3 linked regions of the Homo sapiens genome follow. The protein of the gene in region 1 interacts with the protein of each later gene in a biochemical or structural test. Each region holds a gene or a part of one and is shown in the gene's direction. Other genes may lie near its edges. The genes, in order: RRM2, RRM1 and USP12.

Evidence for each region.
Region 2: the proteins of RRM2 (region 1) and RRM1 form a complex in vitro, tested with the Homo sapiens proteins (3 studies listed by BioGRID and IntAct).
Region 3: of the proteins of RRM2 (region 1) and USP12, one has a biochemical effect on the other in vitro, tested with the Homo sapiens proteins (one study listed by BioGRID).

The regions. Positions count from the first base shown.
Region 1 is NC_000002.12:10,117,902-10,126,182, forward strand, and holds the start of RRM2 (ribonucleoside-diphosphate reductase subunit M2), read left to right. Parts: upstream 1-4,897; coding exon 4,898-4,996; intron 4,997-5,081; coding exon 5,082-5,156; intron 5,157-5,485; coding exon 5,486-5,629; intron 5,630-5,834; coding exon 5,835-5,951; intron 5,952-6,815; coding exon 6,816-6,949; intron 6,950-8,281. UniProt on the Homo sapiens protein: Provides the precursors necessary for DNA synthesis. Catalyzes the biosynthesis of deoxyribonucleotides from the corresponding ribonucleotides. Inhibits Wnt signaling.
Region 2 is NC_000011.10:4,090,328-4,098,690, forward strand, and holds the start of RRM1 (ribonucleoside-diphosphate reductase large subunit), read left to right. Parts: upstream 1-4,471; 5' UTR 4,472-4,685; coding exon 4,686-4,704; intron 4,705-8,363. Other genes in the region: STIM1 (stromal interaction molecule 1 isoform 1 precursor), read left to right, coding at 955-1,471. UniProt on the Homo sapiens protein: Provides the precursors necessary for DNA synthesis. Catalyzes the biosynthesis of deoxyribonucleotides from the corresponding ribonucleotides.
Region 3 is NC_000013.11:27,168,578-27,176,601, reverse strand, and holds the start of USP12 (ubiquitin carboxyl-terminal hydrolase 12), read left to right. Parts: upstream 1-4,790; 5' UTR 4,791-4,962; coding exon 4,963-5,010; intron 5,011-7,466; exon of another isoform or gene 7,467-7,665; intron 7,666-8,024. UniProt on the Homo sapiens protein: Deubiquitinating enzyme that plays various roles in the regulation of the immune response and inflammation.

The DNA.
Region 1 (8,281 bases):
ATGGAGATTACATCTCCTGTAACTATTTATGACTAAAAGTTTAAATGTCAGTTTAATTCTTATTTATTTTAGTTTTAGAGACAGGGGTCTTGCTGTGTTGCCCAGGCTGGTTTCAAATACCTGGTCTCAAGCAATTCTCCTTCCTCAGCCTCTGGAGTAGCTGGGAGTATAAGGGTGTGCCACTGTGCCTGGCTAAATGTCTATTTTAAATGTGTGTAAAGTGGCACATAACTGTTCAACATCATTTTAGAGGTTATCTGAGCACGAAGAAAATCATTAATCCCAAAGGCTCTGCACTGTGCTGGCTGCCTCATCCTCACCATCTCCTGAAAATGGCCTCTCAGTGGCTGAAGCTCTCCAATGCGAATGTTCTAGACACAAATGATGTGGTGACACTCACATCAGCATCAAACAGCTCCATCTGGTTGTCCACCCTGCTTCCTGCTTAACCATTTCCTGCTGACTTCTGAGTGAGTGACACATAAACTAACTACAAAGTTGAACTGGGCTGCTCCTGAGACTTGTGGTTGTGGTGCTGCTGTGCTGTGCTACATTAAGAATGTTGGGCTGGGCGCAAGGGCTCATGCCTGTCATCCCAGCACTTTGGGAGGCCGAGGTAGAAGGATAGCTTGAGCCCAGGAGTTTGAGCCCAGCCTGGGCAATATCGTGAGACCTCATCTATATATATATATATATAAATATACGTAATTGGCAGTTCATATTAAAACAAAGTTTTTGAGAGTCTGGAATTCTGGAGTTAGTCAGACCTGGGTTCAAATCCTAGCTATATTATCACGTATGAAGTCTTCTTGCCAATAACTTTTAGCCTTAGGCTAATAACGATCCCCCGCCGGACTTTTTTTTTTTTTTTTGAGACGGAATTTCATTCTTGTTGCCCAGGTTGGAGTGCAATGGTGTGATCTCGGCTCACTGAAACCTCTGCCTCCTGGGTTCAAATGATTCTCCTGCCTCAGCCTCCCAAGTAGCGGGAACCCAAGTAGCGGGAATTACAGGCGCCTGCTGCCACGTCTGGCTAATTTTTGTATTTTTAGTAGAGATGGGGTTTCCCTATATTGACCAGGCTGCTCTCAAACTCCTGACCTCAGGTGATCTGCCTGCCTCACCCTCCCAAAGTGCTGGGATTACAGGCGTGAACCTCCAAGCAGGGCCTAATAAAGCCTTTTGACCTAACTTCCAGTGTAGAGTACAGGGGTCAGGAAAACAAGTTCATTGACACTGTGAATAAACAATTAGGCAAATGTAGAATGTGGGACATTCTACAAGAAAACTGGCCTGTACTTCAAAGTCAATGTCGTGGGGAAAAGAAGTGGAGGAGCTTTACTAAGAGTCTAAAGCAACATAATAAACGCAATGCATGTGATTAATTAGATACTGCACAAAAAAATAAATCCAAAAAACTATGAGACATTTTTGAAACAATTGGAAAAACAGGAATATGGACTGGATATTAGGTTATATTAGAGAATTATTGTTAGTTTTCCTAGGGATAAATGTGGTATTGTGGTGATATTAACAGAGTGTCCTAATTTTTAGGAGCTGAAACGTTTAGGGGTGATGGGTTATGATATCTATCACTCACTTTCAAATGATCCATAAAAAAGCATAAGCCTCATACACCCACAGAGGGGGTGTCTGCCACATTTGCCATGAAGCAAATATGGCAAAATGGAAACAGCTGTTGAATCCTAGCTGGTGGGTGAACACTAGGAATCCTTCCATTATTCTGTATGTTGAAAACATTCATAGTAAAAAGCTAGGCTAAAAACGTTCTGCTGTGCAGTTGTGCTGTGCGACCTTGGGCAGTTTCCTTGCCTCCCAGGCCTTCATTTCATCACCTATGAAAAGGGTTAAAAATACCAACCCCGGTGGGGCGGTGGCTCACGCCTGTAATCTGAGCATTTTGGGAGGCCAAGGCGGGTGGATGGCTTGAGCCCAGGGGTTCAAGACCAGCCCGGGTAACATACCGAGAACCCATCTCTACAAAAAATTAAAAAATTAGCCTGGCGTAGTGGTGCCTGCCTTGAGTCCCAGCTACTCGGGAGGCTGAGGTGGGAGGATCGCTTGAGCTCGGATAGTTGAGGCTGCAGTGAGCTATCATGGAGCCACCAGACTGGGCAACAGAGCAAGACCCTGTCTCAAAACAAAAAACAAAAAACTCAAACAGCCTCACATGATCCAGGCGCCCAGAGGCTGTGGGTGCTGCAGCCTTAATTATTATTATGACCACCTTCGGCACGGCGTCTGGTACACAGTGAGTGCTGAGCTCCCCGAGCCGCGGTTTCTCCACCCTAATGGTGAACAGCCTTTTGGAAGTCGCGCTAACCTTGGCCTGAGACCTGCAAACTTGCCCAGGCTGGGGCGTGTGAACCGGCGAGCGCGCAGCGGAAACGGGGCGGGGCACCTGAGGCTGGGAATGCAGAGGAGCCTTCCGGGGGGCGGGGCGGGGCCTCCCGTGCAGACCAATGGTGGAGTAGATGCAGATGTCAAAACGCGCGCTCAAGTGGCTTCCGCCAGGAATCCCGACGCTTAGGGAGGCGGAGGGAGGATCGCTTGAGACCAGCCTGGGCAAACAAGCGAGACCCTCGTCTGTTTACTTAAATAAAACCAAAAAAACGAGCACCGAGGGAAAAAGGAGTGAATCCCGGGGCTAGCAGCAGCCTGCGGCGGGCGCTCTCCCGGGAGTGGCTGCACCGCCCGACCTCCCCGGAGGCGGAACCGCCCGCATTGCCGCGTGGCCCTGGGCGCCGCCACCTCCTCCGCAGCGGGGCAAAGTTGCCGGACCTGGGGGCAGGAGGGCCACGCCGAGATGACTCAGGTTTAGCGCGGGAGGGGAGGATGGCGACTTCACCCGGCCTTTAACAACACGTACGCATCTTTCGGCGTCTTCTACAATGGCTATGTTAATTACGTGGCCAGGAACTAAACTATCAATGAAGCCACCTCTGACTACTTCAGTTACAGTGAGTTTAACAGGAGCAAAAAAGCACGTGGCGCCCTAGGGCAACCGAAACGAGGGTTTTAGACGCTGATTATGGGAAATTGAAATCTGAGTTGAGTATGAGATGACACCAATAAATTATAATTTTGTTAGATAATAGCTTTATCAGCCATAAAGTAATCAATAAAAATACCAGTTTCCTGGAGATGGATGCTTTAGTGTGTTTGGGGTGAAAATGGCGATGAATGGCGAGTTGCTTTAAACAAATCATGGTACACCAAAGTTTTAGTTGTGGCTTTGTGTAAGGAATGTGATGGGCACTTATTCCTGCAACACGAGAATACTATGATTTACAAGTCCGTAGTACTTTTAAGAAATGAGAGAAACAGACCTAGGTGGGGAGGGTACCTGTCCCACCCCACCCTCTTTAAAGTATCTTATCTAGAAAAGGCTTTGTGAAAAAAAAAGTCCCGGGTCTCTCTCAATAACAGCCCTGAGCGCAGCTGTTGAAGCTTTCTCAGGTTAATGATTTCTTTCTTGGATCTTAAAGTTTCTTTCTCTTCCTTTATTTTTGGCATTTTGCCCGTTGCAGGGCCTGGCAAATCAGAAAGCCACATAGAAAATTAAATGAAAGCTATTGCTAAGTTCCAGTCTCTACACCAGTGGAGTTTTCAAACTCCTCTTCAGCATATTTGACGCCCAATGAGTAGTACATTAATTCCTAGTCCTAAAATCATTCTGTGAACTTTCTCCCAGGAATTTTTGCTCAGTTTGCAATTAAAACAACTTTTTTTCTTCTCTTTTTAATGGCAGAGGCGGGGTCTCACTATGTTGCCCAGGATGGTCTCCAGCTCCTGGCCTCAAACAATCCTCCTGCCTTGGCCTCCCAAAGTGCTGGGATTACAGGCGTGAGCCACCGCGCCCAGCCACAGTTTGCAATTCTTAAGGCAAGGGTGACAATAGGGGTCAGGGGTCTGACAGGAGACAGGATTTCTGTGGAAAACTGCACCAAGGGCCTTCTCGCCATGTCCCGTAGTTTGAAGGTTTACAAAGGACTGCACATTTTACATGAGTCATCTCAACGAACGCTCTCCTCACCGCATTAACAGTCCACGCGGTTACGAGTCCCATTTTACTCACGGGGACACCGAATCTGTAAGAAGCCTGGTCGCTTGTCCCAGCAAAACGAGCCACGGGGCTCAGCGGCCCTAACTTTTAGGCTGTAGGGTCCTCGCCGACCACCCCGCCAAAATGTCAGGCCTCGGGGCCCTTGCACCCCCACCGCAGGGACACGGATCGAAAGGGTCGCAGCAACGCCTCCCCCGCACCCAGGAGCGTTTTCCAGGCCTTTGCACCAACCTCGTTGGCTAAGCCCCCTGCCCGGCGGCGGCCCGGCTGGGAGGAGGTGCTTTCGGGAGGCGGGGCCGCGGCCCGGGGATCCTCTCGCGCCCGCGGGCTCCAATCGCTGCTCCTCACGCAATCCTAAACGGTTCCCGGGCGAACCGGGGCCCGCGCGCGCCAAGGCCGCCGAGACCCTCAGGGGCTGCGGCCCTGGTCCCGCGGGACCTGTGGGGGCCTGGGCGGCGGCGCCCCCGACCCAGCCAGCGGACGGGCCGGGGGGGGAACCGGGAGGTCCCGGGGGGCGTCCACGGGGGTGTCCCCGGGGGTCTCCGGAAGGCGCCGGCGGAGGCTCCCGCGCTGCGCTTGAAAATCGCGCGCGGCCCCGCGGCCAGCCTGGGTAGGGGCAAGGCGCAGCCAATGGGAAGGGTCGGAGGCATGGCACAGCCAATGGGAAGGGCCGGGGCACCAAAGCCAATGGGAAGGGCCGGGAGCGCGCGGCGCGGGAGATTTAAAGGCTGCTGGAGTGAGGGGTCGCCCGTGCACCCTGTCCCAGCCGTCCTGTCCTGGCTGCTCGCTCTGCTTCGCTGCGCCTCCACTATGCTCTCCCTCCGTGTCCCGCTCGCGCCCATCACGGACCCGCAGCAGCTGCAGCTCTCGCCGCTGAAGGGGCTCAGCTTGGTCGACAAGGAGAACACGGTGAGCCCGCGGGGAGGGCGCTGCGGGCAGGGGAGGGAGGCAGGGAAAGCGAAGCCGCTCCTCACTCACACGCGTCTCCCCGCAGCCGCCGGCCCTGAGCGGGACCCGCGTCCTGGCCAGCAAGACCGCGAGGAGGATCTTCCAGGAGCCCACGGAGCCGGTGAGTGGCGGGCGTGGGGCAGAGGGGCCAGGGACGGCCTTGGGCGTCTTGGCGCCAAAGCCGCATTGTTTCCTCAGCTGTTCACACTCCCGCCCCGGCTCCTTTCCCGCCTAGGCGGCCCCTCCCCAGGGCTGCCTCCCGCGCCCCTCGGCCCATTTCCCGGTTCGGGCGTGCGCTCCTCTGCTGCGACCCACGGAGTGCGACGGGACAGCCACGTTTTCACATCGGGCCCCGTGAAATTGCCGCCAATGGAAAGGACTTGGTCCAGAAAAACGTTAGTTTCATATGGTTCGCCCGGTACTTAAATGTTTTATTTTCTCCCCCAACAGAAAACTAAAGCAGCTGCCCCCGGCGTGGAGGATGAGCCGCTGCTGAGAGAAAACCCCCGCCGCTTTGTCATCTTCCCCATCGAGTACCATGATATCTGGCAGATGTATAAGAAGGCAGAGGCTTCCTTTTGGACCGCCGAGGAGGTAATCGGAGGACCCCAGAAGACCCCTGCAGGGGTGACCGTCACGCCTCAGACATAAATGCACTTGGAGGTTCCCGTTGGCAAGGGGGGCTAACTGTGGGGCATAGTAAGTGGTGCCAGCATACTTAAAGTTTGAGTGCTCAGTGTGAGTCCTGTAGGCTTTACTCTCTTCCTTTTATGCTAAAATTGTGACTTCCGAACCTCAGGTGGACCTCTCCAAGGACATTCAGCACTGGGAATCCCTGAAACCCGAGGAGAGATATTTTATATCCCATGTTCTGGCTTTCTTTGCAGCAAGCGATGGCATAGTAAATGAAAACTTGGTGAGTTTCCAAAACATCTTTCATTCATTTGACGTTGACGATCTGAGGTCGAACTAGTTCGCTTTCCTCGTCTTGTATGTTTTTCCATGCTGAGTGCATCTGTGTGTGTAAGCTGGGTTTTATATTACATGGCATTTCCTGTTTTGTAACACTTTGCAGTTCTTTCTTATGGTATTTTCCCGACTCTAGAGAAGCTGAGACAATATTAAGTGGTAGCAATGTGATGACTCTTTGTGGCCACCACATCTGCCCCCTCTTTTTTTTTTTTTTTTTGAGACAGAGTCTCACTCTGGCCCAGGCTGGAGTGCAGTGGTGTGATCTTGGCTCACTGCAACCTCCGCCTCCTGGGTTCAAGCGATTCCCCAACCTCAGCCTCATGAGTACCTGGGATTACAGACGTGCGCCACCATGCCTAGCTAATATCTGTATTTTTAGTAGAGACAGGGTTTTACCATGTTGGCCAGGCTGGTCTCGAACTGCTGACCTCAGGTGATCCACCCACCTTGGCCTCCCAAAGTGTTGGGATTACAGGCGTGAGCCACCACGCCCGGCTCTGCTCCCTCCTTTTTGTGGCTTTGCTGTTTTAATAATAATTTGGTTGTATCTCTTATTGCGAATGGATCTTTCTTGACATAAATTAATTAGGAAATCGAGCGCTCACAAATCCTATTTTATATGTATCTATTTCCTGATATGTAAGTTGAGCATATGACATAAAATATCAAAGAATTGTGACAAATTGGATGAAATATATATAGAAATAAACCTTATAATGGTACAAAGAGTGCGATGCTGCCAGTATCCGTTGACAGTTGCTGCTGTTGGTTTTTTCTCAAGCTTAACTTTGATGTGTTTTGCCACTAGGTGGAGCGATTTAGCCAAGAAGTTCAGATTACAGAAGCCCGCTGTTTCTATGGCTTCCAAATTGCCATGGAAAACATACATTCTGAAATGTATAGTCTTCTTATTGACACTTACATAAAAGATCCCAAAGAAAGGTGAGTATTCAAGTGGTATGCCAAGATTTTTAGGACTCACTAATTGTTGATTTATTACACATTTTTAGTTCACCTAGGGATAAAAATGACTCCAGAATGACTAAGACAGTCATAGGCATTCCCAGCACCCGTGGTCATGTCTGCTCTTAGCAAGGGGCCTAAATGCACTTTATTATTCACTTAGAGTTGTGAAGGTACTCCTTTTAAAGTTGGATGTCTACCAATGTAAAACCTTCTTTTGAAAAAATTCCTAGATGTTGGGTAAGACAAACTAAAACCTATGTCTGACCATCTTTGCTCATTTGGTAAAGTTGTTGAGAAGCTAGAATGTGGGGCTGCAGTGGGATGGACGGGGAGGACTTGCCTCCTAAGAAGCCTGCAGTATAGTATAGGCAAATAAGACTTAGTAGGAGTTACATAAGGCAGAGGCAGCAGTGAACCCTGAGACTGATTTAGGCATGCAGGAGTTTGGCTGAATAAAGGTAGCTTAAGGTCTGTTTTGTTTTGGAGATTGGAGGTGGGGGGATTAGAAATGGGCTGCTGGAGTAGTCTAGATACAAAGGTCAGCTTTAGGGTGGCGCGCGGTGGTTCTCGCCTGTAATCCCAGCACTTTGGGAGGCTGAAGCGGGCGGACAATGAGGTCAGGAGATCGAGACCATCCTGGCTAACACGGTGAAACCCCGTCTCTACTAAAAATAAAAAAAGTGGTGGCGGGCGCCTGTAGTCCCAGCTGCTTGGGAGGCTGAGACAGGAGAATGGCGTGAACCCGGGAGGCGGAGCTTGCGCTCCAGCCTGGGTGACAGAGCAAGACTCCGTCTCAAAAAGCAAAACCAAGCAAAAAAAACAAAGGTCAGCTTTGGGGACCAGAACCTTGTATGGAGTGGAAGTGGTGAAGCTGCAACCTAAAGTAGCCGTTGTAGACTTTGAAGTACATGAAGAGGAAAAGTGGTAACTTGAAAGGACTGAGGAAACATTGGGAGTAAAGAGATTTGAACATGTTTATAGGTGGAAATTGAGAAAAGAAGGCAAAGATTAGGGGTACGATCGGGGGCAAATGCCCAGAAGGGGAACAGGAAGGTCTGCTGGGGAAGCCTCAAAAACAAGGGAGAGGCAGACCCAGGTCTCAGAGAGAGGGACAGTGAGATGGAAAGAATGAACGACAGCTGGGCATGGTAGTCTGAGCTAGTAGTCCCAGCTACTTGGCAGGCTGAGGCAGAAGGATGGCTTGAGCCCTGGAGTTTGGTTTTACCGTGAGCTGTGATCATCTCGCTGCACTCTAGCCTGGGCAACAGAGTGAGACCCTCATCTCTTTAAAAAAAAAAAAAAAAAAAA
Region 2 (8,363 bases), on another chromosome or scaffold:
GACCTCTTCTGAACCACTGCTCTTTAAAGGCCAACATCCTGTCTTTCTATGCCTCCCTACATTCTCCGTCAGCAGAGTTCTGAAAGAGACCCCACCCTTCCTGCCGCACCACAGACTTTGGTTTGAACTCTGCAATACCTATCTATGACCTCCTTTGAATCCTATGAGATGGTTAGAAGAGGCAGCATCCTGGCCTTTTGGGGTGGGTGAAGGATTATTTGCAAGGCTGTTCTAACCTTCTCATCTCCAGCCTGGGTCAGGTCCACTGACTGCATGTGCCCTGTTCCTTGGGGCCTGGCCCAGACTGGATAATATCCTAAGGTGTGACAGGAGTAAGTGGGGAAGGAAGGCATGGAAAATGGTGACTCGGAGCAGGCTGTAGGTTCTGTGTTAGCTTGAGTCCCAGGAAATACAGCCAGCTATGAGAAGGCAGAGATTTTATTGAGGATGCCGCCTGTGGAATTTAAGCCTATGGCTGCACCAGTTCAGAGCCAGAGCATTCACCACTGGTGGGGCCCAGGTATTGGAAAACCATTTGCCAGACAGATGATGGTATGATGACATTTGTTTTTGTTTCTTATCTGTTTCTTCCCTCCCTATCACTTTTCCCTTTCTTGTCTTTCTCTCTTGGCCCTTCTTTCTACCTGCTTATCCTTTTGCTTTTCTTCCTCTACAATTCTACTCTCCTTTTCCTGTCTCTTTTCCAATCTATCCTCATTCCCTCCTCCTGCCTCCTCTCTTATCCTATACTTATGGCTGCTCAACTTCTGTCTATTCCTCTTTCCTCTCTCCTTCCCACCTGCCTGTTCATCCTATTTCTCTCTCCTGCCGCTCTATCCCCATTTTCCTACCCTGTCCTTGTCTTCTCGTGTTGTCCCTCTCTCCTCTTCGCCTTTCCCCTATCACCTCATCCAATATATGTCCCTTTCTTCCTCTCTGCCCCATGTCTTGCAGGGATTTGACCCATTCCGATTCGGAGTCCTCCCTCCACATGAGTGACCGCCAGCGTGTGGCCCCCAAACCTCCTCAGATGAGCCGTGCTGCAGACGAGGCTCTCAATGCCATGACTTCCAATGGCAGCCACCGGCTGATCGAGGGGGTCCACCCAGGGTCTCTGGTGGAGAAACTGCCTGACAGCCCTGCCCTGGCCAAGAAGGCATTACTGGCGCTGAACCATGGGCTGGACAAGGCCCACAGCCTGATGGAGCTGAGCCCCTCAGCCCCACCTGGTGGCTCTCCACATTTGGATTCTTCCCGTTCTCACAGCCCCAGCTCCCCAGACCCAGACACACCATCTCCAGTTGGGGACAGCCGAGCCCTGCAAGCCAGCCGAAACACACGCATTCCCCACCTGGCTGGCAAGAAGGCTGTGGCTGAGGAGGATAATGGCTCTATTGGCGAGGAAACAGACTCCAGCCCAGGCCGGAAGAAGTTTCCCCTCAAAATCTTTAAGAAGCCTCTTAAGAAGTAGGCAGGATGGGGTGGCAGTAAAGGGACAGCTTGTCCTTCCCTGGGTGTTCTGTCTCTCCTTCCCTCCCTTCCTTCAAGATAACTGGCCCCAAGAGTGGGGCATGGGAAGGGCTGGTCCAGGGGTCTGGGCACTGTACATACCTGCCCCCTCATCCTTGGGTCCTTCATTATTATTTATTAACTGACCACCATGGCCTGCCTGCCCTGCCTCCGTCCCAACCATGGGCTGCTGCTGTCACTCCCTCTCCACTTCAGTGCATGTCTTAGTTGCTGTTCCCTCAGCTCCCAGCTCCACCTCTGGGGTTCAGCTTCTGTCTCTGCTGTCCCAGTTTTGAGGTTTGGTTTCTTGTTTCTGTCTCTTGCTTTCGGGCTCCTCCCTCCCACCACTCCCCAACTTCCCCTAGCAGTTGCAGGGAAGATAGGACGAGTAGCTTCTGACATGTGTGCCTCAGATCTGTTCCACCCCACTCACAGTGGTTCTGTTTGCTCCAGACTGGGGCTAGGGCCTAATCTTTGAAGTTTGTTCTTTGGTATTGATGTGGGTCAGAAGGAGCCTCATCCTAATCTCACTCAGGCCTCCAGGGATCCATGGGGGAGTGAAACCAATTCTCAGAGAACAACCCACCAGAGACTTTTAAAGAGAGGCCAGGCTTGGGAATGGGTTGGGAGAGGCATCTGTTCATTGGAGCATGAGTGGATGCCAGAACTGTAGGTTATAAGGCAGTCACTTTTTCTCTCTACTCCCACCCACACCTGCCTCCCTCTTACCCCTGCTCCCCCACACTGCAGGAGGATTTGTCTCTAAGAGGTGCTGCCCCAAAGCTCCCCAAGCATCAATACTCCTAGGGCTCAGGACAAGTGGCTCCCCTGGCCAGGAGAGCCACAGCCATGATACAGGGCTCTTATGGAGCCCTGGAGTTGTTGGGCAAGGATGCTGTCATTTTTTGAACCAAAAGACAAACAGGTTAAAAGGAAAAAAAGTAATCTGAATTTCCCAAGTGCCTACGCTGCATATTCCCCTTGTTAGATCCCATTTTCATGTTACTTTGTAGCCTTGGCCAGAGGCTCAAAAAGGACACAACCAGTTTGGGGAAGGGGTGGCTAAGGAAGATGGTATAGGTGAAGGCGGCTGTGTGACCACTTTCCCCCACCCTTCCCACCCTCTAGACAACTCTCTCCCTTACCTGTTTTTGCTATGGCTGTAAAGGTATTTTTCCTCTGCCCCACTCCCTGCCATACCTTTATCCTGGGATCCTATTTTGGGCCTGGGGTGGGTATACCTGGGGCTGGTCTTAGGAGGGTGCTAGGCTGCAGACTGCCTTGTACTCCCTGGACACCCTCAAATGGGGTTTTCTGTGTTATTTCATAAAATTCTTTGAAGTCCAATAAAGCATGTAGGAGATTTTAACCACTGCTGGCTTTGACTCTCATTGTGTTCTCTGTGCTGTGGCATGATGGGATAAAGAGACAATCTTTCCTTTGCCCAGGGAAAATGAAACTTGAATGCACATGCCCAGAAGCTCTGTGGGCAGGGTTACCAGATAAATGCAGGATGACCAGTTAAATGTGAATTTCAGATAAACAGTTTTTAAAGTATAATTTTCTCTCATGCAGTATCTGGGACACATTTTTATTTGCTAAATTGGGAAACCCTATGTCTGGGTAAACTTGACCCTATCTATCCTATAACTTCACTTACGACTTTTAAAAAACATATCTATTTAATTTTTCTTTCTTTTTTTTTGTTTTTTTTGAGACGGCGTCTCACTCTCTTGCCTAGGCTAGGGTGCAATGGCGCGATCTTGGCTCACTGCAACCTCTGCCTCCAGCGTTCAAGCGATTCTTCTGCCTCAGCCTCCTGAGTAGCTGGGATTACAGGCGCGTGCTACCATGCCTGGCTACTTTTTGTATTTTTAGCAGCGGGGGGGTTTCACCACGTTGGTTAGGCTGGTCTCGAACTCCTGACCTCGTGATCTGCCCGCCTTGGCCTCCCATAGTGCTGGGATTACAGGAGTGAAGCACCGCGCTGGCCTACTTTTTCTATTTTTTGTAGAAATGGGGTCTCACTATGTTGCCCAGGCTTATCTCAACACCTGGCCTCACATGATGCTCCCGCCTTAGCCTCCCAAAATGCTGCAATTACAGGCTCACTTACGACTTTCCATGATTTTTGAAATTACTTCACAGGGAGCCTGGGCAGCTTCTGGAGGGCAGTGAGAAACCAACGAAAAGGCTTTAGGGAAAAGATGCCACAGATGAAATTTCATAAAGATCGCTTTGGGTAGCCCAAATCAGAAGCTTCTACACCAGCCTTACATATTACGGTTCTCATCTATTCTTATTCTCCACTCTAAGTCACCAAGTCCATCCTACCTCCACAAGGCAAATACCCTGTCTCTGCCACCATCCACTGAAGAACCCTAAAAGCAAATGGGTACTGACCCTGCCCTGCTTAAAATTCTCTCAGGGCTCTGATTTGCGTCAGGATAAAATCCAAACGCCATCGGCCTTGCGCGGTTTTCTTCCAGTTCCAGAGTGTCAGTCCTCTGGCCGATCTAAAAGCCCTGGGGCTCCAAGCTGCCCACGGCTGTGGAGCCTGGGCTGGAGCCCACAGCGGACGGCAGTGTTAGTATTATTATAATAAATGTCAGAGCAAGAAAAACGTTCCCGCCGGTTAGGTTTTGTTATTTCAAAAATAAATTAACCGCCTTTCCTCCGGCGGAGACGCGCAGGTGAGAGGGCGGCGCCTGACCCAGCGGGCTCTAGGTGCTACGCCAGGGCCCCGAGGGTCCCGAACTCGGCTTGCCCACACAAAACATGGTAGCAGGAGAGCAGCATTTCCGCCGGGCATGTCCATATCCAATGGGGCCCATGGGAGAGGCGTAGTCTTCTGGGTCTTGCCCAGACTCAACATGGCGGCTACACGTCGCCTGTCAGTCTGTGAAGCCTACCCCGGGCGTGGGCCGCAGCGTCGAGTAACGTCATTCGAACCCCGTCGCGCCCCTTTGTGCGTCACGGGTGGCGGGCGCGGGAAGGGGATTTGGATTGTTGCGCCTCTGCTCTGAAGAAAGTGCTGTCTGGCTCCAACTCCAGTTCTTTCCCCTGAGCAGCGCCTGGAACCTAACCCTTCCCACTCTGTCACCTTCTCGATCCCGCCGGCGCTTTAGAGCCGCAGTCCAGTCTTGGATCCTTCAGAGCCTCAGCCACTAGCTGCGATGCATGTGATCAAGCGAGGTGAGGGGGGGACGAGGTGGGCGAGAAGGAAGGTGAGGGGATGCGGGCTGCCGCCGCCGGAGCTGATGCCCAGACCGCCCGCCCGCCTTCGCTGCTTCCCGCCTTTCCCGCATTTCCCGCCGCGGCCTTCCGCCCTGTCAGCCCGCTCGGCCTTCTGTCTTCAGTCAGCCTGCCCCGAACCTCCTTCGGGCCTTCAGGCTGCGCCCCCTCGGCTTTGTCATCCTGCCGCCTTTCAAAAGGATAACACTTACCCCGTATCGAGTAGTGACTGCGTACGCCGAGCACTTGCCAGGCACTATTTTATTCCTCCCTGCAAGCCTCTGAGAGATGATTAGCTTATTACAGATGAGGAAACTGACGCTCAGAGCGAGGTGTCGCCGACTGACCCAAAGTCACCCATAGGTGACAATACGGTTTGATTTGAAAACCGTGGGGTTGGTGAGCTGTCTTAGGCACAGGGTCGGGGGGCAGCTAGGAAAGAAGGAGGGGGCCTCTCTACCCTCCGTAGGCACTTGTCAGTTTACTGATCTCTTTTGTGGGGTGAGGATAGGAGTGTGGCGTGGAAAAAACAGATCCCAGACAGACAGCACCCTCGAGTTCCTTTCCCTTCATGGGAAGAGATGCTGAATCAGAGAAGGGTGGCTGAGACATCTTCTGACAAGATGGGGACTGGGAAGAGTCAGGAACTCGTATTCTTTCTCAACAGTTCTTTTTCATTAGACTTGCCAAGTGCCCGCTTTGTGCCCAGCCCTTTGCTTGGCTTTGTGAGATTGTAGGAGGAGACAGTCCCTGCCTTGGGAACAGGCTTCATCGGGTTGGAAAAACAAGAGCAACATACTTTTAACAACCGCATGAGATACGTATGAACAAGTTTTGAGTTGAACCTACTTGCCTTTGTTAAAGCAATACAATGATTTCAAAATTGTAGGCACTTAGTAAATACTGGTTAATCGACTGGTTGTTTCTATTTTGTCCTCTAGGCTGTGAACATTTCAAAGATGGAGACTTGTTTGAGACAGAGTCTTGCTCTGTCACCCAGGATGGAATGCAGTGGTGTAATCATAGCTTACTGTAACCTTGAAGTCCTGGGCTCAAGCGATGCTCTTGCCTCAGCCTCTCAAGTAGCTGGGACTATAGGCATGCACCACCATGAGTGGCTAATTTTTAAAAATTTCTGGTAGTAAAGGAGTCTTGCTGTGTTTCCCAGTCTGGCCTTGAATTCCTGGCCTCAAACCATCCTCCCTTCCTTGGCTTCCCAAAGTGCTGGGAATACAAGCAAGATGGAGACTTTTCTGTTCACGTTTAGCACAGGACCTGACATGAACAGATTCTTAAAGAATGAATGAAAATAGTTGTATCAAAATGTAGGACACGATGAATGCTGTGAATAAGCAGGTAGTTGATTTGGTTTAACTACAGCCAATGTCCAGATTGGTTTAACTACAGACAAGAGTTGGAAAGGTGGACAGTAGTGGCCTTTCTTGTTTTTGGTATCTTGAGAACATCATTCTGTGAATTTTCCTAGCTCACATTTTAGCTGACCAAAGAGCAAAATAACATAGTGCACTTTTATTGATCCATTCATAAGAGTGAGAGCTGAGCATCTATTTTTGTATTTTTATTTTTTTACATTATTATTTATTTGTATTTTTTTAGAGAAGGAGTCTCGCTATGTTGCCCAGGCTTGTCTTGAACTCCTGGGCTCAAGCATTCTTCCCACTTCAGCCTCCCAAAGTGCTTGGATTACAGTGCTGGGAGCCACCGCACCTGGCTTGAGCATCTATTTTTTAAATCTTTAGATATGGGAGAGATGTTTAGGATGGTCTATGATAAGTCAGTAACAAAGATGAATTGAAAATGTATGGACTTAGATGACCAGAATGGGTAAAATTCAACCCTGTGTTGAATTTTGAACTTTTAGAGTCTACTTCTAAATACTTTCGTTTAAAAAGTGCTACCTTGGCCTGGCGTGGCAGGGCATGGTGGCTCACGCCTGTAATCCCAGCACTTTGGGAGGCTGAGGTGGGTGGATCATTTGAGGTGTGGAGTTTGAGACCAGCTGGGCCAACATGGTGGAACCCCGTCTCTACTAAAAACACAAAAGTTAGCCGGACGGTAGTGGTTTGCACCTGTAATCCCAGCTACTCAGGAGGCTGAGGCAGGAGAATCGCTTGAGCCTGGGAGGCAGAGGTTGCTGAAATCGTGCCATTGCACTCCAGTCTAGGCGACAGAGTGACACTCTGTCTCAAAAAAAAAAAAAAAAAAAAAAACCACAAAGTGCTAGCTATAACTAGCTCTAAAAAGCAGAGCTTATTTTCTCATTCCTTCATAGAGCACAATTTGATCCAGATGGTTCATGCTGTAGATTCTGCCATTGTAGCATTCAGCAAGACTTAATATACAACATGTACTTAGATTTGTTTGTTTCTTTTTTTTTTTATATTTCTATGTTTCTATATTTTAATGTTTTTTAATATGCATAGGGTTTTTGGTTTTCTGGACTTTTTTTGTACCCCCTTATTTTTGGCATGTCAGTGGAATAGCAGACTAACTCCTACAGTTTTTGTTAATTTTCTTTGAGATGGGGTCTTGCTCTGTCATCCAGGCTGGAGTGCAGTGGTGTGATCTCAGCTCACTGCAGTGTCTGCCTCCTGGGTTCAAGAGATTCTCCTGCCTCAGCCTCCTCAGTAGCTGGGACTACAGATGTGTGCCACCACGCCTGGCTAGTTTTTGTTATTTTTAATAACAAGGGCAACTGGAAGTTGACTTTGAAGTACCTACTGAATATGCTAATGTCTTGCTAAACACTGTGAGGGCAGTAATGGAGAAGGCAGCTCTATCTTCAAAGAACTTAAAATTGTTAGGGATTTAGGAACAATCCATATGAAAATTATTAGATAGAAGAGAATAGTAGATGAGTTTTTTTCATCTGCTATCTTGAGCTATTTTTCCTAATGGGAGAGTATCATTCCTCAAGGAGATTATGGTTAAAAAAATAAACATTGAGAACCATTGCAGTAAATGACAAAGTAGCTAACTGAGTTGTAAACTGTTTTGGAATTTAGTGTAGTATTTTCAAAACTTTGGATTGTAACTCACAGTAAAAAACAAAACATTTTACAGACATGTGTATATATGTGGATACACATAAAATGATACAAAAGTTTACGAAATAATGTCTTTGAAAGCATCCATTTGCACTCTAATCTTTCTTTTATTCCAGATTCTTTCCCTATCCCTGCCTCCCTCCCTCCCTTCCTTCCTCCCTTTCTTCCTCCCTCCCTTCCTTCCCTCCCTCCTTGCTTCCTTCCTTCCTTTCTCCCTCCCTTCTTTCCTGCCCTCCTCCCTCCCTCCCCTCCCTCTCCCCCTCCCTCCGTCCCTTCCTCCTTCCTTCCTTCCTTCCTTCCTATTCCATTCACAGCCTGCTAATATTATTTTACAACTCTGTGGATACCGTGCTGTTCACCGGGATTGCAGTGATGAGTAGGCAGACATGGTTCCAGCTTCCAAAGATCCTACAATCAATTGAGAAAGATAGACAAATAAAGAAGTAATATGATAAAATATGATAAATACTCTGATAGGTAAAGTATAGGCAGTAGAGGCCATTCATTCAGTTATTCATAAAGCATTTATTCAGCACCTCTTTGTGCTAGGAA
Region 3 (8,024 bases), on another chromosome or scaffold:
CTCCAACCCAAAGAAGAGATTCAGAGAAGCAGGCAGAATATCTGTTAGTGCTTGAGGAGCCTTGAAATGTATCGTGTTGCTTGGAGGTCAGCACTGTTCGAGACCAGCCTGGCCAACATGGTGAAACCCTGTCTCTACTAAAAATACAAAATTAGCCGGGTGTGGTGGCTCATGCCTGTAATCCCAAAATTAATCCGTCTCAAAAAAAAAAAGAAAGAAAAGAAAAAAAGAAAAAGAAAAGAAAGGAAAGGCCTGAAAAGTCGCTGATTTGTTGATTCAAGCCAATAAAAAATTTACTGTTTTGATTGACATCTACTGCTTGATGACTGGGTGATATTAATGAATGCCACTAAGACGACTGATTCCTTCAACTATTAAGAGGTTGGGTAAAGAAGCGGAGAGACCACAGGTTTTAGAGTCAGAGCCTTTGTGTGGATCCTGGCCCTGTATGTGCTGGTTAGTGCAATGATGAATGTCATATTCCCCTGTGTGTAAAATAAGTATGAAATGATGGATCTGTAAGGTCATCGTAAGGGTTACATTGGAATATGTATCTGAAGTACTAAGCAGGTGGCTGGCACATAGCAGAGGCTCATTAAATCTGGAGGAGCAAGCTGGCAGCCCGAGGGCTGTATTTGCCCACCCCAACTTTTTTTTTTTTTAAATTTTTTTTTTTTTGAGACGGAGTCTCGCTCGGTTGCCCAGGCTGGAGTGCAGTGGCGCGACCTTGGCTCACTGCAAGCTCTGCCATCCAGGTTCACGCCATTCTCCTGCCTCAGCCTCCCGAGTAGCTGGGACTACAGGCGCCCGCCACCATGCCCGGCTAATTTTTTGTATTTTTTAGTAGAGAAGGGGTTTCACCGGGTTAGCCAGGATGGTCTTGATGTCCTGACCTCGTGATCTGCCTGCCTCGGCCTCCCAAAGTGCTGGGATTACAGGCATGAGCCACTGCGCACGGCCCCCCAACTTTTAAAATGTTGACTTTGAATGTCCATTCTAAACTTTCCATTTTGTGTTGAGCGCCAGGCACTATTTGAAACATGTTTTATCGTTGTAACATAATTATTACCCTTATTTTCCAGATGAGGAAAGTGAAACAAAGAAATATCGATTTGAGTATTTTTTTTTTGTAGCTTAAACCTTCATGCAAGTCCGAAAGGAGTCGTGCCTCTCAACCTCATCCTGTCAGAATCAAAATAAAATACTTTTACAAAGCTAGTGTAGTGGAGTGGACACAGGTGTGGCTCCTGGAGCTAGGTTCAAACCTTGGTTCCATTGCTTACTAGTTAGTTGTGCAACCCTGGAAAAGTTATCTCTGTGCCTTGGTTTCCTTATCTAAACGTGGGGATAATCGTAACACCTGCTTCATTAGGTTGTTGCAAGGATTAGATAAAATGTTTACACCCCTTCTTGGACCACTCCCCATCACTTTCTTTCCCAACCCATCACAAGCAAAGCTTCACGAATCATTTATGTGAGCTGGTATAAACCCACATGCCTTCAGGGAGAAAAGAGGTAGCAGAACTATATAATAAAGTGACTTGTGTTAAACTGTTGAACAGAATGAGTAAAGGAAAATTTGAGGCAGACTGTAAGGAACTGGAGAGTGTAGGATTGTGTAACAGTATGCAAATGAAAACATTATAAAATGCTGTGCTGACTAAATGGATTAAGGTTGGACATAGTTCATTTACTTGCCTGGTCCCTGAGGCATCTGGGCATATTTTGTAGTTTGCATATTCAAGAAGGCCGAAAAGGAGTCAGTTGTACACAAACTCATCTTTTGCTAGGCACAGGGAAGCTCTTTGTAAAGCTGATTACACAGCTGTGTAAAGCTGTGTTCTAAAGCCAGATTACCCTTTCCAAGCTCAGGGTGCAAAAGTGTGGAGTTTCAGCCAAACTTATTCTCCAACTGCATTACATATGGTAAAGAACACTCAGTACAACACCTAGCACATAGATTCAAGAATGTCTCTTTTATGTTTGTGTCTCTCCAATCGACCATAGGCTGTGGAGACAAGGCATTGTGAGGCTCTGTGATTAGGTTTCATGACTTTACCTGTGAATTTAGATGGCTCCAACATCAACTAGACATGACTCCAGATAATTCTATCAGAAATCCATTTTACTTTTTAAAATTTAATTTAATTTAATTTTTGAGACGGAATCTTACTCTGTCGCCCAAGCTGGAGTGCAGTAGCATGATCTCGGCTCACTGGTTTTTCCCAGGTTCATGCGACTCTCCTGCCTCAGCCTCCCTAGTAGCTTGGATTACAGGTGCTCGCCACCATGCCCAACTAATTTTTGTAGTTTTAGTAGAGATGGGCTTTCTCCATGTTGGCCAGGTTGGTCTCAAACTCCTGACCTCAAGTGATCCGCCCGCCTTGGCCTCCCAAAGTGCTGGGATTACAACAGGCGAGAGCCACTGTGCTGTATTTTTGAGATACTGTTTCAGTCTGTCGCTCAGGCTACAGTGCAGTGGTTCAATCATGGCTCACTGCAACCTGGATATCTCGGGCTTAAGTTATCCTCTTACTTCGCCTCACAAGTAGCTGGGACTATAGGTATGCGCCACCATGCACCACGTATTTATTTTTATTTTTAGTAGAGACAAGGTCTCACTATGTTGCCCAGGCTGGTCTTGAACTCCCTGGTCTCAAGGAAGTTGGAAGCCATCCTCCTGCCTCAGCCTCCCAAAGTGCTGGGATTACAGGCCTGATCCACTGTGCCCAGCCTAGAAATTTATTTATTTATTTATTTTTGAGAGAGTCTCACTCTGTCACCCAGGCTGGGGTGCAATGGCACAATCCCAGTTCACTGCAATCTCCACCTCCAGGATCCAATCTATTCTTATGCCTCAGCCTCCTGAGTAGCTGGGATTACAGGCGTACACTGCTACGCCTGGCTAATTTTTGTATTTTAGTAGAGACGGGATTTCACCACGTTGGCCAGGCTGGTCTCCAACTCCTGACCTCAAGTGATCCACCTGCCTCGGCCTCCCAAAGTGCTGGAATTACAGGTGTGAGCCACCATACTCAGCCTAGAAATTCATTTTAGAAAGGCCTTGTTCTTATATAAACTTATATGTAAAGCCAGTGGCTTTTGTTCCTGTGACATGTTCGGATTAATGGACAAGGAGGCATATGGGTGGTTAGCGGGATGGAGGCAGGTCTAAAATTCTGGCACATCAGACCTGTTTGCTGGAATAGAACAGCAAGTGGGAAGGACAGGATGACCACAGCTATTTATCAGGACGGGCACACAGATGGGCATGGTGACACTCGGACAAGGCCCAGGTAGGCCCTAGAGGTCTAAGATGTAGAAACCCTTGTCCAAACAGGGGGTAGAAAAGAGCAAGAAAGAATTCAGGTGGGTGATGCTTGCAAGTATAGAGAGGAAAGCCCCTGGCTGGGGTATCAGGGCTCTTGGCTTCCATGGAGGCAGGCGCTTGGAGATCCAGTCCGGCTACCATGGGGCTTGGCTATATTCAATCTGCATTCCCCCCCCAAGCAAGCTTATAATGGAATCACTATGGAAACAGTATTCATGTACCAGAAGTCTATTTTTCACTTAAATTTTGTTTGAATGCTTTTTGTTTTTGAGTGCTTTGAACCCTTGAGGTGAGGCATTTCTGATTTTACAGCTCTGCCTGAATTCAGATCCTCAACCCCACTGAATTAGGGGAACCCAGAAAAGTACCCCATCACGAGTTCAATCAGAAAATATCACAAGCTTTCTAACATAATAATTTATGAAGTTATTCTACTCACTTGAACTACTTTCTCAAATAGGAAAAAATAAAGCTGAGCTGCCAGGCATGAAGAACAGGGTGCAAATATGAATTTTATAAAAGGAGAAAGAGGAACTACCCATGCCAGTAGCCAGCACTGCCTAAGGATTTCTCACAGGGCATTTTTCTTGCTTGCGGGCTTCCTGTCTCTGGTAATATCATCATCACTGCTGGCTTGAGATCCTCCCTATTTTGCAGCTCAATGTGCAGATATTTAGAAGCCTATTATAAATTTATCGCCAACAGGCCAACAGGTTTCGCTCCTCTCCTTCCCCCATTACTTATCTTTCTTCTTAATTCAAAGAGTTAAACATGTGTAATTTGTTCTTTGCCTCTTCATTTTTGTTTAATTATTTTGTCTTTTTCTAAGTTGTGTTTGACTCCGGTGATTCATCCAATATACGTAAAAAGAAACAAACCAAGTGCTTGGGACGCATACCCGGGTTATCTTAACTGTGCAGAGCAGGTTTCCTCCCACTCCGCCCGTAGTTACCCAGATCATCGCCTCCGTTTTCTGTTTAGGCAGCGGGGGCTCGCCGTCCCCTCGCCCGCGGTGGGTGTCGCAGCTGGTCCCCTCCAGGGTTCTCCCAGATCGCCGCCGCCACCCCCGCGCCTCCCCGCCGCACCCCTTCCTACGCGGGGGTCTCTGGGTCCCCGGCTCTAGGACCGCAGGGACGCGGGCAGGAGGTGGCGCCCGCCTTCGGTCCTGCCCTCTGCCGCGCGCGGGGTGGGGACGGACCGGAGTTCCCCGGCTCGCGCACAAGGGCCGCGGAGGGGTTGCCGAGGGGTGGGCGGGGCTGCGCCGCCTGGCCGCGCCGCTGCCTGGCAGGCCGGGCATTAGGGCCTCGGCGGAGCCCGCTCCCCTGTGCGCTGGGCGGGGTGGGCGGAGGGCGGCTTCGCGTGCAGGCGCGGGCCCGGAGGCAGCGGCTGCGCCCTGCGCCGGGGCGGAGCCGGGGGCGGGCCGGCGGCCGGCAGGCGGGGGCTGGGGCCCGAGGCCGGGAGTGCCTGAGCGCCGGCGGCGACGACGGCAGCGGCGGCCCAGCGGGCTCGGTGGTTGGGTCCGCGGCGGCTCGGGGTCCGCCCGCGGGCTGCGGTGCGAGCGGGCGGCCCGGCTCCCCTCCTCCCCCGCCCGCCGCCGCCGCTGTGATTGGGTGGAAGATGGCGCTGGCCGGATGGAAATCCTAATGACAGTCTCCAAATTCGCCTCCATCTGTACCATGGTAGGTGGCGGCGAGCGGGCGGCCGGGGCTGCCGGGACCTCTCGGGCGGGCGGGCGGCGCTGGACCCGCCTCTCCCAGTGGCCGCTCGCGGGGCCTAGCGCCGGGGCGGGCGGGCGGGCTGGGCGGCCCGGGCGGCCCGGGCGGGGGCGGTTGGACGGCGCGCAGGCGGGGAGCGCGGGGGTGAGCGGCCCAGGCGGCTGGGGAGGGGGCGCCGCCTGGTGGGCCAGGGCGGCGCGAGGGTAGCGGTGAGTGGGCGACCGTGCCAGACGCGGCGTCGGGCGGGCACCGGCCTCCGGGAGTCCCCGGCTGAACTGCTGGGGTCCGCTCGGGACGCGGGGACGAGGGCCGAGGCGCGCCCGGCCTGTGCCGGGGTGAGGGGTGGGCGCGCGCGAGCCAGAGCGCGGCCCCGGGCCGGGGTCGTCGGGGAGGGGGCGCGGAGCCGCGCGGGCTCCATTTCCTTCTGGTCGCGCGCCGAGCGGGAGGGGTCCCCGGGAGGGGTGGGGGTCGGCGGGCAGGAAGGAAGGGTCTCGGCCGGGGCGGGCAGCGCTCATTCCCGCCTGGGAGAGGACGGAAGTCAAGTGCAGATTTCCTCGCGCCGCTGGCTGGGCCGAGTCCCCGACCCCGCGCTGGGGGAAAGGGGCGTGTGTGAAGGTGGAAACTTTAAATAAGTACTGTTGAAATTCTCTCCATTTTCTCCTCTGAGAGGCACGAGCTCTCCCGTTTCCAGCCGTGTGTCCAGGTGGCAGTCTTGTCTCTGGGAATGCACGTTAATCTTGAAAAGCAGCATTAGCTTTCCTGTCATTTGTTTACTTCAGCCCACCAGACACATCTGTATGTGGCTGGAGCTAGGTCTGTCTGTGCGGGGACCGCCTGCCAAGGCGATGGTATTTGTTTTCCTAGGGCGTTTAAATAGACTGTAAGGGAAAAGTGCTAATGCCCGCTGGAAGTCCCGAATTAAGCAAAACGTGGGCGCGTTTAAAACTTGGTGTTTTGTGCGTGGCCAGAAGGACCACAGTTTTCCACATGATGAGACAAATTCGTTTCATTAGTTCCTCATGAGCTTATATGTAGGGATCATAATTTATGAGTCATCACCGAAAAAAGTTGTTCTTTGCAACGTGGGCCTAGTGGTTGTTATTAGAGACTTCTGAAATCTTGTGTTTCATGCCTCACTGGCCCTATTTATGCAACTGATTTCATATAGGAGATCCCCAAGAAATTTTCCATCTAAGGGTGGTACATTGTATATATTTTTCTTTAAGGAGTGGTGAATCAGATCTGAAAGATGCCTTAAAAAGCAGATTCTCTACTACACGCTGAGGAACAGTACAAAAAATGACTGAAATCAGGTGGACATAAAATCGACAGTATTAAAGAAATCATATTGAAGGATGAATCATTGAAGACTCCATTTCCCAACTGGATGATTGTTCTTTCTCACAGTTTACATTTTAGGAAAGCATTTGTATTAAATGGACTATATTAAAATGATTTTGGAGAATTGTTTGGGCTAATTATTTTTAGATACGCCAATTATTATCTTAGTCAATTTCAAAAGGAATGCGATAATTAGGTCTTTTACAGTGACAATTTTGCCACATGGCTGAGCTACACACATTGTATGGGTCATAGTTCATTGTCAAAGACTAGATTTCAGGAGTGGTGTGATACTCTTTACCGACTGTTCATTCACTCAAGTACTGTATATCAAGTATACACTTAGCAGCCACTAAGTGCTAGAGGCGACGCTGAGTACTGGGGATGCAGTATTGGTCAGGGCAGCCCCTGTTTTCTTGGTGTTTACATTCTTGCTCATGGACACAAACAGTATTCAGGTAAACAATAAATGTATGCTGTAATCAGATTAGGACAGTGAGACACAGGGATTTGCCAGGGTCACACACTTAGTAAGTGGGATTCTGATCCCAAGGATGTCAAATCAGAAGCTCTTTCTAGGGCTTCCATCCAGATACATTAATTACATGTGGGGCGTGTGTATTGTTGGCAAATACAGAAAATGCCTGGCCAAATGAGATCGTTCCAAAGGTACTATTAAAATTGGGTGTGTCTGTATTCATATTTGAATACATTCGAATGTACCCCCAAATAGTGCTGAATATCTCAAAGTAATTTGCAGTCTTATTCTTTAAAGAAAATTGCCATTTGTCCTCTGAGAATCACAAAATTGAAAAGCAAAGATACCTCTTTGGCTTTGTAGGTGCTGTTTTGCTAGGCTTGGAACGCTCCTCCCTGCCACACCCCGTATCCTTCTTGTCTGGCGAGTGTGTGTGCCTGTCTCTTAAGCAGGGAGCCTTACTTGAATAATCCTACCCCTGTCCAACCCGACCCTCCATCCCCTTCATACAGTTTCATGGCATTTTTGTAATCTCAGTAGCACTTATCATACTTACTGTGCAGTAAATTTTTCTTTGAACTCTTACTCAATTGTGAGGGCCTTGAAGGGGAAGGATTATCATTTACTTCTGCAGTTTGATCTGGAGTACCAAGTTCTGCATTCAGTATAAAAGTTTTCCAAAGTCCTTCCTGCCTCCTCCTGGTATGCCGGGTGAAGCAGGGATGATGTGGCTGTGTGTGTGTGGAATGGTGGAGAGAAGATGGGCTGGACTTAAACAGAACACTTCTCAGAATCAGCAGCTGTGAAAACATTTAGGATGAGTTGAAATTTTATTCTATAAGTACTGAAGTGTACATAATTTTTTCATTTGTCAAAATAACGTACCTGGGCAAATCTGCAATACCTTAATTGGGTTAAGTAACTGTTAAAAACAATTCTCTTCAGCTGTGTCTTATTTTAGATCACTAGTGTTGTGCTTACATGTGAAAATTAGTAAAACTTGTTTTTCATAAGTTAGTATTATAGCCTGAACCAAATGAGTGATTATGTTTAGATTGCAGTGAGTACATTTTCAAGGGTACCTCTTGAAATACCTGTTTTTAATTTGTCTATGAAATAATACATTTTCAGTATCACATAGTGTTTATTTTGCCTTTGA